Linked DNA regions of Homo sapiens. The protein of the gene in region 2 interacts with the protein of the main gene of each other region in a pairwise test. Each region holds a gene or a part of one and is shown on either strand. Other genes may lie near its edges.

Region 1 (3,500 bases), on a different chromosome or scaffold from region 2:
TTCCCAACCACAACCCTCCTTAAGACCTTAAAGATACTTTAACCTAGCTTAGGCCTGACATGGACAGATTTCCTTTTCTGCTAGCACAGTCCAGATAAGATTAGTTTAAAAAAAAACAAACTATATTATGAATCCGTGGTAAAAAGAAAAAAAGTAGGGGTATGTTTATTGAATTGATGGAGAGACAGCTTAGCCTAAGGTGGTTGGAATCTGTCTACAAATTAGTTAAGCCTGACGTTGATCATTGGACATTCATCCCCGTTTGTCAGGCTTAAATTCAAGTGCTTTGGATGCTGAATCAAATTACTGTGGTAGAAAGAGGTTTAATTTTTTCCCTAAGAAAAATCTTATCTATGGATAAGTAGAAACCATTCTCTGACAACCTTGTAATAATTTTGACAGGGAATGTAACTACTGTGTTCTGCTTTTGGTTAAAGGCTAAAGTACATATTAGGAAAATTTGAGGCTGGGCGCAGTGGCTCACACCTGTAATCCCAGCACTTTGTGAGGCCGACGCAGGTGGATCACTTGAGGTCAGAATTTGAGACCAGCCTGGCCAACACAGTTAAGCCCCATCTCTACTAAAAATACAAAAATTAGCCAGGCATGGTGGCGGGCACCTGTAATCCCAGCTACTTGGCAGGATGAGGCAGGGGAATCGCTTGAACCTGGGAGGCAGAGGTTGCAGTGAGCCATTGCACTCCAGCCTGGGCAACAGAGTGAGACCCTGTTTCAAAACAAAACAAAACAAAACAAAAAAACAACAAAAAAAGGAGTATTTGAAATGTAAGTTTGTCCAACTTTAGTTTTCCAGTTAGTGAAGTGGTGGGCAACACACCTGCATTGTTTGCTCTTTTCAACTGAGTTTCTCTAATTGAGGAGTGATGTTTCTTGATGGTAGGACTCTTCATTCCTGCTATCTGGCATAATTCATGGGACACATTAGATATTCAGTAAATGTTTGGTAAACGAATGGAACTTACAAATTGTATTCTTTTTACAGTATGTGTTTTAGAAAGCATGGATCATATATTTATTGATCTGTCCTCCAAGTCACTAAAGAATAACTTTGAAGACTACATGAAATTTGGCAACCTATTAATGAAGTCTATTCATAATATTTCTATTAGGATCCTAGAGAGGCCAGACATAAAATAATACAGTCTACTTTTATTTTACTTTTTGAGACAGGATCTCTCTCATCACCCAGGTTGGACTGCAGTGGCACAATCATAGCTCACCATTGCCTTGAACTCCTGGGCCTGCTTCAGCCTCCCCAAAGCAAGTACTATAGGCGTGTGCCACCATGCCCAGCTGATTTTTAATTTTTTTTATAGAGACAGAGCCTCACCATGTTTCTAGGTTGGTCTTGAACTCCTGGCCTCAAGCAGTGTTGGGATTATGGGTATAAGCCATGGCACCCCATCCAATCTGCTTTTAAATACTAAAATGTGGGTATTTAGAACTGCAAGTTACAACTCACCCTCAAATTAATTCCCAGAATGGTTATTGTGTTGCAGTGTACTTCTGGAAAGACAACAGTTTTATAGTTAAATAATAAACGCTTAAGGGGATAGAGTAAGACATTTTCCTACTTTCTTACACTTAGGCTAAATGTTACAATTGTGATTTAATAATTAAGTAAAACATGGTAAAAAAAAAATTAAAGAGGGGTTTATAGTATAGATATCTCTTCAGGGATCCCAACTTTTTCATGCTACTGCTTTTAGGAGAGAAAAAAACTAGATGAATGGAAAAAAACACCAATTGGGATATGTCACACTGGGACTTCAGTTTGAAGACTCCACTGTAGTAAAAAGACTAATTTGCTTCTGGATATTTTTCTCTTTAAATGAATGGAGAGGCTGGGCGTGGTAGCTCATGCCTGTAATCCTAGTACTTTGGGAGGCTGAGGTGGACAGATCACTTCAGGCCAGGAGTTTGAGACCAGCCTGGCCAACATGGCGAAACCTCATCTCTACTGAAAATACAAAAATGAGCTGGGTGTTGTGGCGCATGCCTGTAATCCTAGCTACTCGCGAGGCTGAGGCATGAGAATTGCTTGAATCTGGGAGGTGGAGGTTGCAGTGAACTGAGATCGCACCACTACACTCGTCTGGGTGACACAGTGAGACCCTGTCTCTGAAGGAGAAAAATATTAAAGGGTAATGACACAGTAACACCTAGAGATTTCTCCTTTTTCCTCATGAAAAGAGGAAAAAGGGATAGTGAACTTAATGCATTAGATTTATTAGTTGGGTTAATTTTTATTGTCAGATCAGTTATCACCATGAATGGGAAGTCATATTTTGACTTCACACAGCAGTGAAAACTATCAGCTCCTGATTTACAAGCTTTGTAACAACTGGTTTTCTGTGGTATTTTTTTTTATATATATTACTCATTTTTTCCTTTTTGGAATGAGATAATATTGACCTAGATTAAGTGGGCAGGTAAGGATTAATTTAGTCTCTAAGATACAATATTTTTGGAAAAATGCCTGTGAGATTTTTATCAGATTTTTGAATTTTCACCAGTTGCCTCACCACTAGTGAGGAAGCCTTTAGTGACATTGTGCTTTGATGGCCTGACAGAGAAGAGTTATCACTTAATCTTAGATAGTGAACATGTTTTAATTTAATGTTTTAAAAAGTATGGGCCTTAGACAATAAGCAAATTGTCAAGCCCTATCCCACAGTCAGTGGTTCAGAATTTTGAGGGCAGAGCTCAGAAATCTGCATTTTTAACTAAACTTTCAACTTCTTATGCAAGCTAAAGTTTGAGAGCCACTGTGTATTTTATGAAAGGTTGAGTGACTGTTGACCTGAGTTCCTTCAGACTCAGGCCTGTGAAGTCCTTTCATCTGTTTTTGTAAAGCAAGAAGAGAATCCAATAAAATAGGCCATTAAGATTTACTTTCTGGTAAAAAGATTGAGAACAACATTAAAACCAATATTCCTTTAGCTTTAGGATTTATTTTAAATAATTTTTTTCTGATTATAAAAGTAGTATATGTCTACTGTGAATATTGAGAACATTTAGGAAATTATAAAATAATAATAACCAATAATACCATTTCTTAGAGGTGAGCATATTCTTAATTTGGCATCTTTTTCTGCATCCGTTTTTCAATCCCTTTTTCCTTCTCTTTATCTTCGTCTCTTTATCCTTATGTTTGTGTAAAACAACATTTGCAATTTTTATCCTACTTTTTTCTCCTTAACATGTAAGCATTTTACCACATTATTAAACTTTCTCCACAAACATAACTTTTAGTTGCTGCATTATATTCTGTTATATGAATATACTATAATTTACTTAACCATCACCATTTTATAGGATATTTAGATTGCTTTCAGTTATTTGAGTGGAAGAATGTCTTTCTGTTTAAAATTTTGCCTGGATTTCTGATTATTTTTCTCAAGACAGGTATATATTTAAATTTATTGAGGTTAAAAGGTATGCCTTCAGACTCTTGTTGAAATTGCCAAATCATTTTG
Region 2 (3,500 bases):
CAGGGCCTGGTGTCTCTGCATGCACCAGGGCTTAGTGCCATGCTGGTACAAGCGTGGGGAGGATGCAGGAGGACTGGCATGGGATGGGGAGCACTGCCTGGGAAGCCCCTTCTTCCTGGGGCTACTGGGGTGCTAAGAAAGTACCCTAATAGCTCACACCACACTTTGCTTTCTCCTTCATCACATGCTAGGACGCTCTAGGGCAATTGAGCTGTTTTCCCCTTCACCCATCAAGAAGAGATATCGGCCTTTCCGCAGTCACAGTCTTTCCTAACTCAATTCAAACTCTGCTGTTGATAAGGAGGGCTGTAGCCAGCCCAGGCTGCCCGCTTCCCAGCCTCCCCTGCTCCGCCTTCCGCCCCCGAGGCTGTGCACCATGTGCAGTGTCTGGTCCCCAATAATGAGATTAGTCTTGGTTGCCTTTTAATAAAACGCAGTGGGCACCGGGAGGGAGAGCGATGCTTGGCTCAGTGAAGATCTGCGGGTCATGCTGTCCCTAATGCGCTGATTGCATTAAGTGGATTCTGGCTGCAGGTAGGGTGAGTGGGTGGGGACGAGGGTGACTCTCACAGCTCTAAGATCCAGAAACTGCCAGAGATCTGTCACCCTCATCCTGAGCTGTCACAGAGGAAGGCAAGTGACTGTGTGAGGGGCTACGTGAGCTCCCTCTGGTTGCAAGGTTCTGGTCTGCAGGGCAGTGGAGCCCTTGGGGGTGGGGAGTGGCAGCTTCCAGGCCTTGAAGCTGCTGCCCACAGTTCTGCTCTGAGAACACAGAGGGCCCAAGAACAGCCGGTGTCCCAGGGCTGCCCAGTGAGGAGGGAAGAGCGAGAGAGTATTCTTGCTGTCAAGACTGGGAAATGAGGGCCACGATTCAAAGCCTTGCTTCCTAGGGAGAAATCTCACCCAATGTCCAGGTTTGCAAATGCAGCAGACACATTTGTGGGTGGGTCAGATTCTGTCCAGAGATACCAGAATGTCTATCCCTGTACACCCCCACCTCTGGCATGGGACAGCCCTTCCCTGCACACAAATGGGTTATCAATTATGTCCAATGAATGGCCTCACGAGAGTCCTGTTGCGGAAGGGATCTTCCGCTTATCTCCTGTAAAGCACAGAGCCACGCTCAGAACCTACGGACTGTGGTCGCCTGCAGGCCAGCCATGGGCTTTCCTTTCATCCTTACACTTAGATTTTGAAGCCTCGCCTTTGAATCAGAAGCAGGCTGCTGTCATTCCAGAGGCCGCTGTTCATCTCTGGCTTCCTCCCAGATGCCCAGGTGCCCCGGGTGCCTGGGCTGCCTAGGCCAGGGCACCCGCCTTAGGAGCAAATGGAAATGCATCTTCCTCGGCTTGTTTGCCCTCCTGTAACCCCTTCCCTCTTGCCTTCGGTCAGGGCCTGCTGTCTTGCACGCACCAGTGCTTAGTGCCATGGTGGAACCGAGGCGGGGAGGACGCAGGAGGACTGGCACAGGAGGGGGGGCACCGCCCGGGAGCTTCCCCTGCGTCAAAGCAGCTTCCTCAGTGAGCTCCAACACAGACCCTTGCTGGCCTCAGTCTCTGGAAAGACTGACAGCACCACCCTAGTTCCTGGGCCTTGGAAAGGCCAAAGCCACGAGCAGGCAGCCACTGTTCGGCAGGAGAGCTAGAGATGCTATTGCCCACAGACATCAAAGCAGGGGTGCCGTCTTCCGTGTGCATGCTGGGACGGGTCTTGGAGGCCCAGATTAGCTCCTGGCTTGAACTTGTACCACCCTTACCTGAAAATTGGGTCTGTACCAAAGCTCATCTGCACGCCCCTTTAGGGCAGGGACCAGGCCCCCTCTGTGTGGCCCTAGCACCTGGCCAAGTGCAGGTGGCTGCGGGTTGAGTTGAGCTGCTATTTGCTGATGGGAATTTGGGGGCCTGTCGCTTGTCCTCTTTGAGCCTCCATTTCCTGGCCTGTCAAATTGGGGCAATGCTCCTGTTATCCACACAGTGTCATTTAAGGGTGACATTAGAGATGGCATGAAGTGCCCAGCACAGAGCAGGTGCTCACAGGCTGTTGGGTCCCCACCCTACTGACACACCAAGCACACGTCTGCCCTGCCATGGTGGGGAGCAAACAATGTTATGGTTCCGACTCCCCGGGAGGCCAGGCCGGGCATTTCACTGTAGGATGTTGAAGCCGCAGGCAGTCGTCGCTGCGAGAAGAGAGCCTGGCTCTGATGTCCACTGTCTTCCAGGGAGCCTGGTGGGAAGGAAGGAGTGGGCAGCGGCCCCTCGCTCTGCGGGCCTCTCCTGCCCTTTGTACTCCACGAGGTGTGAGGAAGTTGCCGGGTCACCCAGCAGAGGGAGAGGTGATGTCCCCTCTGTTCTTCCTAATTTGTAGCTAATCAGATTCTGCCTGCAGCCAGGCTCTCTGGGGATGAATCTAATAAAGGAGGCGGCGACCTGGAGAGGAGGACAGACAACAAGTGACCAGGGGGGACAGCACTTCTTTCAGTACATTTTCCTGTTAGACTCGGGGTATTAGAGACCCAAAGATACCCAAGGAGGAGTGAGAGCGTCCCTGCCTTCGAGGAGCAGACAGGGCACCGCGAGGGTAAGGAGGCTCCGGGAGAGCCTGGGGACAGAGTGATCTGCGCACCGCGGTGCCTGAGGAGTGGAGGCAGGGGTGTGGGCCCACAGCAGGGAGCCAGGCTGGGCCATGTCCTTGGATTCTGTGAGCCCAGGCGTCTCCTCTAGAGGGCCTAGCAGGAACAGTGGGGGCTGCAGATGGAAACGGGCAGGATCATGCCATGCAGTTGGCATTTCACTGGCACTCGGGGGCACTTACGCAGGGGACAGCATGATGTTGGGAGCTGGCTTTGTCCCTGGCATGTCTGTCACGTTGAAGAGGGAGAAGCTGCAGGCCCTGACTTGGGTGGGGCAGTGAGGATGCTCAGGAGGGAAGTGAGGGGAGGGGTGCCAGCATGCGGCGGCCTGGGCAGCCTTCTGTGGAGGAGCTGAGGTGTCACCTGGGCCCGGAAGAAGGGCAGCCCTGCTAGCTAGTGGGGAGGGCATGAGAGAACTTGGCGACGATGGGAGAGAAGGTGACTTGGGACGAGCTGGGTTTGAAGCGTCTGTGGGATGTCCAGGTAGAGATGAGTAGTGAACCGTCAGAAATGGGGCTTGAATTTGGGGTGGCGGGGACAGAACTGATACCCGTGTAGGTGACAGATAAGGACAGAGGCAGGAGTTCCAAAAATAGGATTTATTGTTGGCTGGGGCTTCTGGAATCCCGTATTCCCGTCCACCCTGGGAATGTGGATTGGAGCTATGTTTCTGGGAGATGATTTGATGGAATGTGTCAGAAGTCTAAAACAGAACCTAGCCCTTGTTTCAGGATTCCCTGCAGAGAAGTTTGCAGATGACCACATCCTGTTGTTTATTTGGTGGAAAACTGAAATCGAAAGCTAGCTAAATGCTGAACAATGGGAACTAGTTGGCTAAAAAATGGCCGTGCAATGCAAGAGTGTGAGG
Region 3 (3,500 bases), on a different chromosome or scaffold from region 2:
TGATAAAATACTTGAGATTGGCCTGACAGTTCTAAGGTGTTTTTGTTAGTTTACCAATCTGAGGAATTTTGGAAACTTTTGCTGTCTGATAAGTTACTAATTTGTATCATATGTTAAAGTGCTTTGCTTTGAGTTTGGAATAATTGCAGAAATTCTAATTATCTGTACAAATTGTTACATACCTTGAATTGTTTTTAAAAATAATAATAGAGAATACTTGCTCTGTCATTAATTTTCCTTTGTGTTAAATATGTTAATAAAATATTTTTAAACAATATATGCAATAAAAATTAAAAGTTGTAAAGAATGTTTATGTCATTTCTAGAGTACAAGTGCAAATGTAAAATTATCTTGTTTCTCCTTGTAGTAATTAGTTTACTATATGAGGACATTTGCATGTCTTTTTAAAAACCTATATTTTGTCCTCATGTCTTTGTTTTGTTTTGTTTGCTTTTGTAAAGGCTTTATTGAAACATAACCTATATATCATATTGTCTTGTTTCTTCAAAGACTTGCAGGCTACGTTGAAGCATTGGCTTCCAGGTTAGGCCTGTCAATTCCTGATCTCACACCAAAGCAAGTTGACATGTGGCAAACACGTCTTAGTACACATTTGGTAAGTAATTTACATGGTTTATGATAATGAGTTGGGTAGCCAGAGCAAGATTCTGTATAGTTCAGGCCCTTGAGAAATTTGAGACTAAAATTGGTTTGAATGGAGTTTTTAACAAAAATTGTCTAGACGTTGGCAGTTTTCAGAAGAACAGTAATTTGTGTTATTAACTCCTTATTTTTTGTAGGTATACTTAATTTTTAAAAAATATTTTGTAATTCACTTAGTATTAGGGAGTATCTCTTATAGGTTGGGGTCTAAAGAACATAAAACGAATAATAAACTGTGGTTATCCTTGAGGAACTTGTTTAGGTGGAAAACCAAACATATAAACAAATTATAATTTGGTATGACATATGCAGTAATGAATTATGTACAAGATATAACCATGATACAGGTAAGGGAATTAACACTGTGGGGAGTAACTTCTTTTGGTGGGGAGATTTCTTGGTTATTATTAGATCTAAGCCGATTTTTGAATTATAGATGAGACATTTACTAGATGAATAAGAGGAGTTCCAAGCATACTGACTAGCAATTAGAAGAGGATGATAAAAAAAGGGTATATTTAGGTAAATACAAGAACCGACTTTAGGAATATAATATATAGTAGCTGTAGGTATAAGCAGCAGCAGGAGACAACATTGGAGAAGTAAGCAGGGATCAGACAGGAAAGCTATTGTATGTGAATGCTAAGGAGCTTGAGCCTCTTACCTAAGTGATGGAGAGCCAGGGGAGTTTTAAGTAAGAAGTAAACTGGATGGATCATGATGCCATCAATAAAATCAAGAAAAAAAGGAGGAGGAATAAGCTTGTAAGGGAAGATAATGAGTTCTATTTTGGACGCATTGAATTTGAGATACTAATAGGACATTTGAGTGGTGACACCTAGTAGGCATTTAGGTTAGAGTCAAGAGTTAGATAGGTCAGAGTTAGTGATAATGGGTATTGTCACTCCTTCATTCAACAAATACTTATTGTTTACGTATTATATGCCAAGTAGAGATACAGGAGTTTTGAATACATTGGTTAACAAAATAAGATCTTATTTCTGATAGATCTTACATTCAAGCAGTGAGGAGACAGACAATAAACAATCTGATAAATAAAAATATTTAGCATATTAGAAGTTTATATGTGTTATGAGAATAAAAAGGGAAAACAGAGCGAGGTAGAAGAGGCTAGGAGTGCTAGGATGGAAGCAGACTGCAATATTCAATAGGAGAGTCACTGTAGGCCTCACTGAAAAGGTAGATGATTGTTCAAACCATGGGAGAAGATGAGATTTCATAGGAGAGTGGTTCTCAAAATGTGGTGCCAGCATCAGCAGGATCAACATTACCTGGTAACTTCTTAGAAATGCAAACACTCAGTCTTCATCTTAGACCTATCTATTATTGTGTAAATTATTGCAGCTGGATGGGGTGGCTCATGCTTGTAATCCCAGCACTTTGGGAGGCCGAGGCGGGTGGATCACCTGAGGTCAGGAGTTTGAGACCAGTCTGATCAGCATGGTGAAACCCTGTCTCTATTGAAAATACAAAAATTAGCTGGGCGTGGTGGCAGGCGCCTGTAATCCCAGCTTACTCAGGAGGCAGAGGCAGGAGAATTGCTTGAACTTGGGAGGCAGAGGTTGCAGTGAGCCGAGATCAAGCCATTGCACTCCAGCCTGGGTGACAGAGTGAGACTCCATCTCAAAAAAAAAAAAAAAAAAAAAAACAAAAACATGCAAATTCAGCAGCTTAAAACAACATATATTTGTTATCTCTCATTTTCTGTGGGTCAGATCAGGAATAGCTTAAATGGGTCCTCTGGAAGGCTGCAATCATGTCCAGCTAGGACTTCGTTCCTGTCTAGAAGCTCAATTGGTGATGAATCCACTTCCAGGCTCACCCAGGTCTTTGGCAAAATTAATTTTTTTGTGGCTGTGAGGGACCTAACCTCTGGCTTGCTGTTGCACTCTCATGTCCTGGAGGCCTCCCTCCATCTAGAGCAAGCTTGTGCAACTCGCTTTTGGTAATCCAAAAGTTTACCACAAATTGGTAAACTTTCTTAAAACATTATGAGATTTTTTCTGTGATTTTTTTTAAGCTTATCAGCTATCGTTAGTGTTAGTGTATTTTATGTGTGGCCCAAGAAAATTCTTCTTCTTCCAATGTGGCCCAGGGAAGCCAAAAGATTGGACACCCCGATCTACGGGTCACCTGCAGTTCTTTGCCATGTGGCCCTCTCAGTAGACCCTCTCACAACATGGCAGCCTGCATCTTCAGAGCCAGCAAGGGAGAAAGGGAATGAGTCTGCTGGCAGGATGGCAAGATGGAGCCTTATGTAATGTAATATAATCACAGGAGTAACACCCCATCACCTTTCCTATTACTCAAAGCAAGTTAGAGCATCCTACCTATGCTCAAGGGGAGGAGATTATGCAAAGACTTAAATACCAGAAGGAAGGTATCATGGAGGCCGCCTTAAAATGTGCCTGCTACAGATTCACAAAATGAAAAGTTCTGGAGACGGAACCCAGCAATTTGTGTTTTAATTCTGTTGTACATTAAAATTTGAGAACTGTTGTTCCAGAGAAAATGTGCAGAATTAAAGAACCCTAGAAAATACCTAAGAGCTCATAGTCTTATGGGAGCTATCAAGGACGAAGTTTTAAGAAGTAATGAATGATAACCAATTCCTCTTGATATAAAGAAATCAAATAAAATTTCTGAAAATTTTTTTTTGTTTTTGGATTTGGTATGTAGTTGCTCATTGATAATCATTTCTGAGCAATTTCTATGGACTGATGGAAGAAGAAAAATCAAATGACAATGAATTGAAACACTAACGGGAGGTGAAGAAGAAGAATAAAATATAAAATTAATGTTAAGTTAGATGGAAT
Region 4 (3,500 bases), on a different chromosome or scaffold from region 2:
ATCTACTAAAAATACAAAAATGAGCTAGGCGTGGCGGCACGTGCCTGTAGTCCCAGCTACTCAGGAGGCTGAGGCAGGAGAATCGTTTGAACCCAGGAGGTGGAGGTTGCAGTGAGCCATGATCAGGCCCTGCACTCCCGCCTGGGTGACAGAGTGAGACTACAACTCAAAAACAACAACAAAACAACAACAACAACAAAACCCCAGCTTCTTCCAGGTCTATGGCAGGGTAAGCTCAAAATGAACCTGGAACATCTTGTGCCAGAAAGCAAGAAAATGTTCAAAGAATGACATGAGTATGTCAAAGGGCATAGGAGTTGACCTACAGGGATGTTCACATTGGCCGAATTTGGACCATCTGTGCATCTAAAAGAATAATCGCATTTATGGATTATAGCACAATGAATTAGAAGATCTGTGAGTCCAGAAAATATAGACAGAGGCAAAGGAGAGAGGAATGGGAAATGGAAGTTGTTCTGTGCAGAAAAATGATAACATAAATGCAGATAAATTATAGCATTATGAAAGCAGCACATTGGAACCACAGTGATTGCTGGTAATCAATGAATATGAGGATCATCAGTGGATGCTAAATCCATCAGTTGAAATGTTATTAAGAAACAGAATATGACACTGTCTCAAAGCATCACCTTGGCAGTTATTTACTAATTGCCAAGAGGAAAATGTACCTATCCAGGGAAGAGATCTGAAGGATACTCTTAACCAAGAGATCAAACTTAGCACCACCCTTAGCATGAAAGGCCCACAATGTACACCACACCCATTAAGTATTCTCGCTAAAATGTTTGAATTCAATTGTGAGAAAATAATCAGAAAAGCCCAGAATGTGAGACATCTACAAGACAACTGTCAGGGATTCTTAAAAACAGTTTAACACCCCAAAAAACAAAAAGGCAGAAAGACTAGTGTAAATTAAAGGAAACTAAAGAGATGTAGTCTTGTACATAAACCTTTATTGGATCCTGTACAAAAAAAATTTAAAAGTTACAAAATAATAGAATGTTTTTATTCTTAGGAGGTGTATGCTGAAATATTTAGGGGTGAAATATCATAATGTCTGCAACCTAATGGCTCAGTAACAAAAACACATAATAAATACATATTTGTATATATGTACAGGTGTACATATATACTTTGCATGAATATATACACACATACACACAGAGAAAGAGAGAAAGCACAAACAAATATGGTAAAATATTCATGTAGGTGATTCTAGATAAAGGATATGTAGGGGTTTATTGTGCTATACTTTCAACTTTTTTGTAGATTTGACATTTTTTAAGGTTGGGAGGAGGGAAGTCCCTTGCCCTGAAGGATAAAGTCCAGATTTCTTAACCTGGCATTCAAGGCCAGCTCTGGCCTGGATCTACCAAGCTGTACTCACTTTTTAAGCTACTCAAGGGCTGAATTGTGCCCTATCAACCTTGTTTTCCCAGCATTAGTACCATGTCAATCTGTCTTCAGAGCCTTTCTCCTCACTCATCTGAATAAACCCCTCTTAGATTAAACCTACTTTCTCACAACTCTGGTTGCACTGATCTGCCTGTGAATAACACCCATTCTCTCTACTCAAATGAAAACACCCCCCTCTCCATCAATCCTATCGTCACTTGAATATGAATATAAATTTCAATACTATACCTGACATTTTCCTTTATATTGTTGTAAAGATATTTTAATATCTTTATAAGAGGAAAGCAGAGGTCATAGCTTATAATTCTTAGAGAACCCACTCTACCTAGAAAATAACAGGTCTTCAATAGATAGTTATGGGTTGATTGATCACATCCTTCACTGCATTTTCATAAGAGGAGATCATTATTTTGATATCAAAATTCCACAAGGAAAGAATAAATTTAGTAAATTACCTAGTTACCTCTATGTGATGCCAAACTAAACGTTATTTAAAAGCTTATTTTTAAGATCAAATAGGTTTGGATTACTTTTTTTTTTATTTCTATGTGGGCATTTAGTATTGTATAGACTGCATGAGCTTGGGTGAATAGGGGAATGTAGCTATCTGATAATTTATCCACAATATCCCCTTGTCGCATTCTATGGTACTAACCTGCTTCTATGTTTTAATTTAGACACTGCTGTCAATTATCTTTTCTTCCCTCGGAATTGCTTTTTCTGGATACTGCCTGGTCATCTCTGCCTTGGGTCTTGTCCAAGGGCCATATTGCCGCACCCTTGATGGCTGGGAGTATGCTTTTGAAGGCACTGCTGGACGGTAAGGAATAATTCCCCAAACCAAGGAGGTCGGAAAATCAGAAACACCTTGCCTCATGCTCAAGCTCACGCTCATTTTCCATGATCACTTTGGGGTTCCATGTGGCTGTTTTAGTGCAGAATTTCCCTGTTAGTTTACTAATATCCAGACCAATTTGTTCTTGCACAGATCTTTGTTTAGATTTTTTTCTTCAGTCTTTTAATGCCATTTTCATTCAATGTCTTGAGGTTGTCATGGAGCTATCCAAATGAAAGGTGTGTTTCTCCCATACCTCAGATTAAAGTTGTGTGGTTACTATGGTCTGGTCTGGTAACAGCTGGAGCTTATGGACTGGGTGGATCCAGGAACTCAGTTTTGTTTTATGGCCAGGTTGGACATGTGGTCTGTTACAAGTGTAAAAGGGCTTGAGGAGGAGAGAAACCATGGTGCTCTTGGATGGTGCCACTCAGGGCTATAGTAGGAGGGATGATAAAGAGATAGAACAAGGCAGGATGAGCAGGAAAGTACAGTCTGAGGTCCAGGAACATGATTAGGTGCAGGAGTTTGTGGAATGAGCCAGAGCTTATGCAGCTTATACTGGAGAAGGGTCTAAAGAGGTAGCCTTGCTCAGAAGGCTAGTAATTCAGTCAGGAGTCTCACAACCCAATCCCGGATCTCAGAATGCCTCACACTGGCATTGTGCTGGGCTTATTGGGTTCCCAGCACCAGATGCAGATTAGGAGGTAGCAGGGCCCAGAAAGAAATACAGAAGAGGTCCAGAATTCTAATGGAGTAAAATGAGGGAATGTCTGTACCATTCACTGGGGGAAGTTAAATTTTCTTCTCAACTCTCCATGATTAGCTTTATTGTTCAAGGCCCATGTCCATCTGAGGTCTTACATGTGCATCTAGGCCTACATGGCAGAGCTGCTTCTGTGACTGTAGCTGCCTTCATTCTGAAGATTTTTACATGGTGCCATATACCATGACCTTTCTTAGCAAACATGACTCTCCCTCAGGTCTCTCCTACTTGCATATCCATTTATAGGCTCTCTGCAAGAAGAAAAATATGGCTCTTTTTGCCCAACCCCACAGGCAGTCAGACCTTATGGTTGTCTTCCCTTGTTCCCTAAAAATCTCTGTTATTCTGCTCTTTTTCAATGTGCACTGATTTCATATTGTTCAAACCACATGTTTTACAATCAATTTGTACAGTTAACACAATTATCACAGTGGTCCTGAGGTGGTGTACATCCTCAACTTA

What was found. Proteins that work in one complex are often made in the same cells at the same time.
Region 1: the proteins of CYB561 (region 2) and SEC22A interact in binary tests that used the Homo sapiens proteins (3 or more experiments, as listed by UniProt).
Region 3: the proteins of CYB561 (region 2) and TMEM65 interact in binary tests that used the Homo sapiens proteins (3 or more experiments, as listed by UniProt).
Region 4: the proteins of CYB561 (region 2) and TM4SF18 interact in binary tests that used the Homo sapiens proteins (3 or more experiments, as listed by UniProt).

Annotation. Positions count from the first base shown.
Region 1 is NC_000003.12:123,204,943-123,208,442, forward strand, and holds part of SEC22A (vesicle-trafficking protein SEC22a), read left to right. Parts: intron 1-1,358; exon of another isoform or gene 1,359-2,165; intron 2,166-3,500. UniProt on the Homo sapiens protein: May be involved in vesicle transport between the ER and the Golgi complex.
Region 2 is NC_000017.11:63,439,807-63,443,306, reverse strand, and holds part of CYB561 (transmembrane ascorbate-dependent reductase CYB561), read left to right. Parts: intron 1-2,479; exon of another isoform or gene 2,480-2,580; intron 2,581-3,039; exon of another isoform or gene 3,040-3,107; coding exon of another isoform or gene 3,108-3,115; intron 3,116-3,500. UniProt on the Homo sapiens protein: Transmembrane reductase that uses ascorbate as an electron donor in the cytoplasm and transfers electrons across membranes to reduce monodehydro-L-ascorbate radical in the lumen of secretory vesicles.
Region 3 is NC_000008.11:124,317,202-124,320,701, reverse strand, and holds part of TMEM65 (transmembrane protein 65), read left to right. Parts: intron 1-510; coding exon 511-616; intron 617-3,500. UniProt on the Homo sapiens protein: Essential for maintaining proper cardiac intercalated disk (ICD) structure and function as well as cardiac conduction velocity in the heart.
Region 4 is NC_000003.12:149,323,637-149,327,136, reverse strand, and holds part of TM4SF18 (transmembrane 4 L6 family member 18), read left to right. Parts: intron 1-2,114; coding exon 2,115-2,257; intron 2,258-3,500.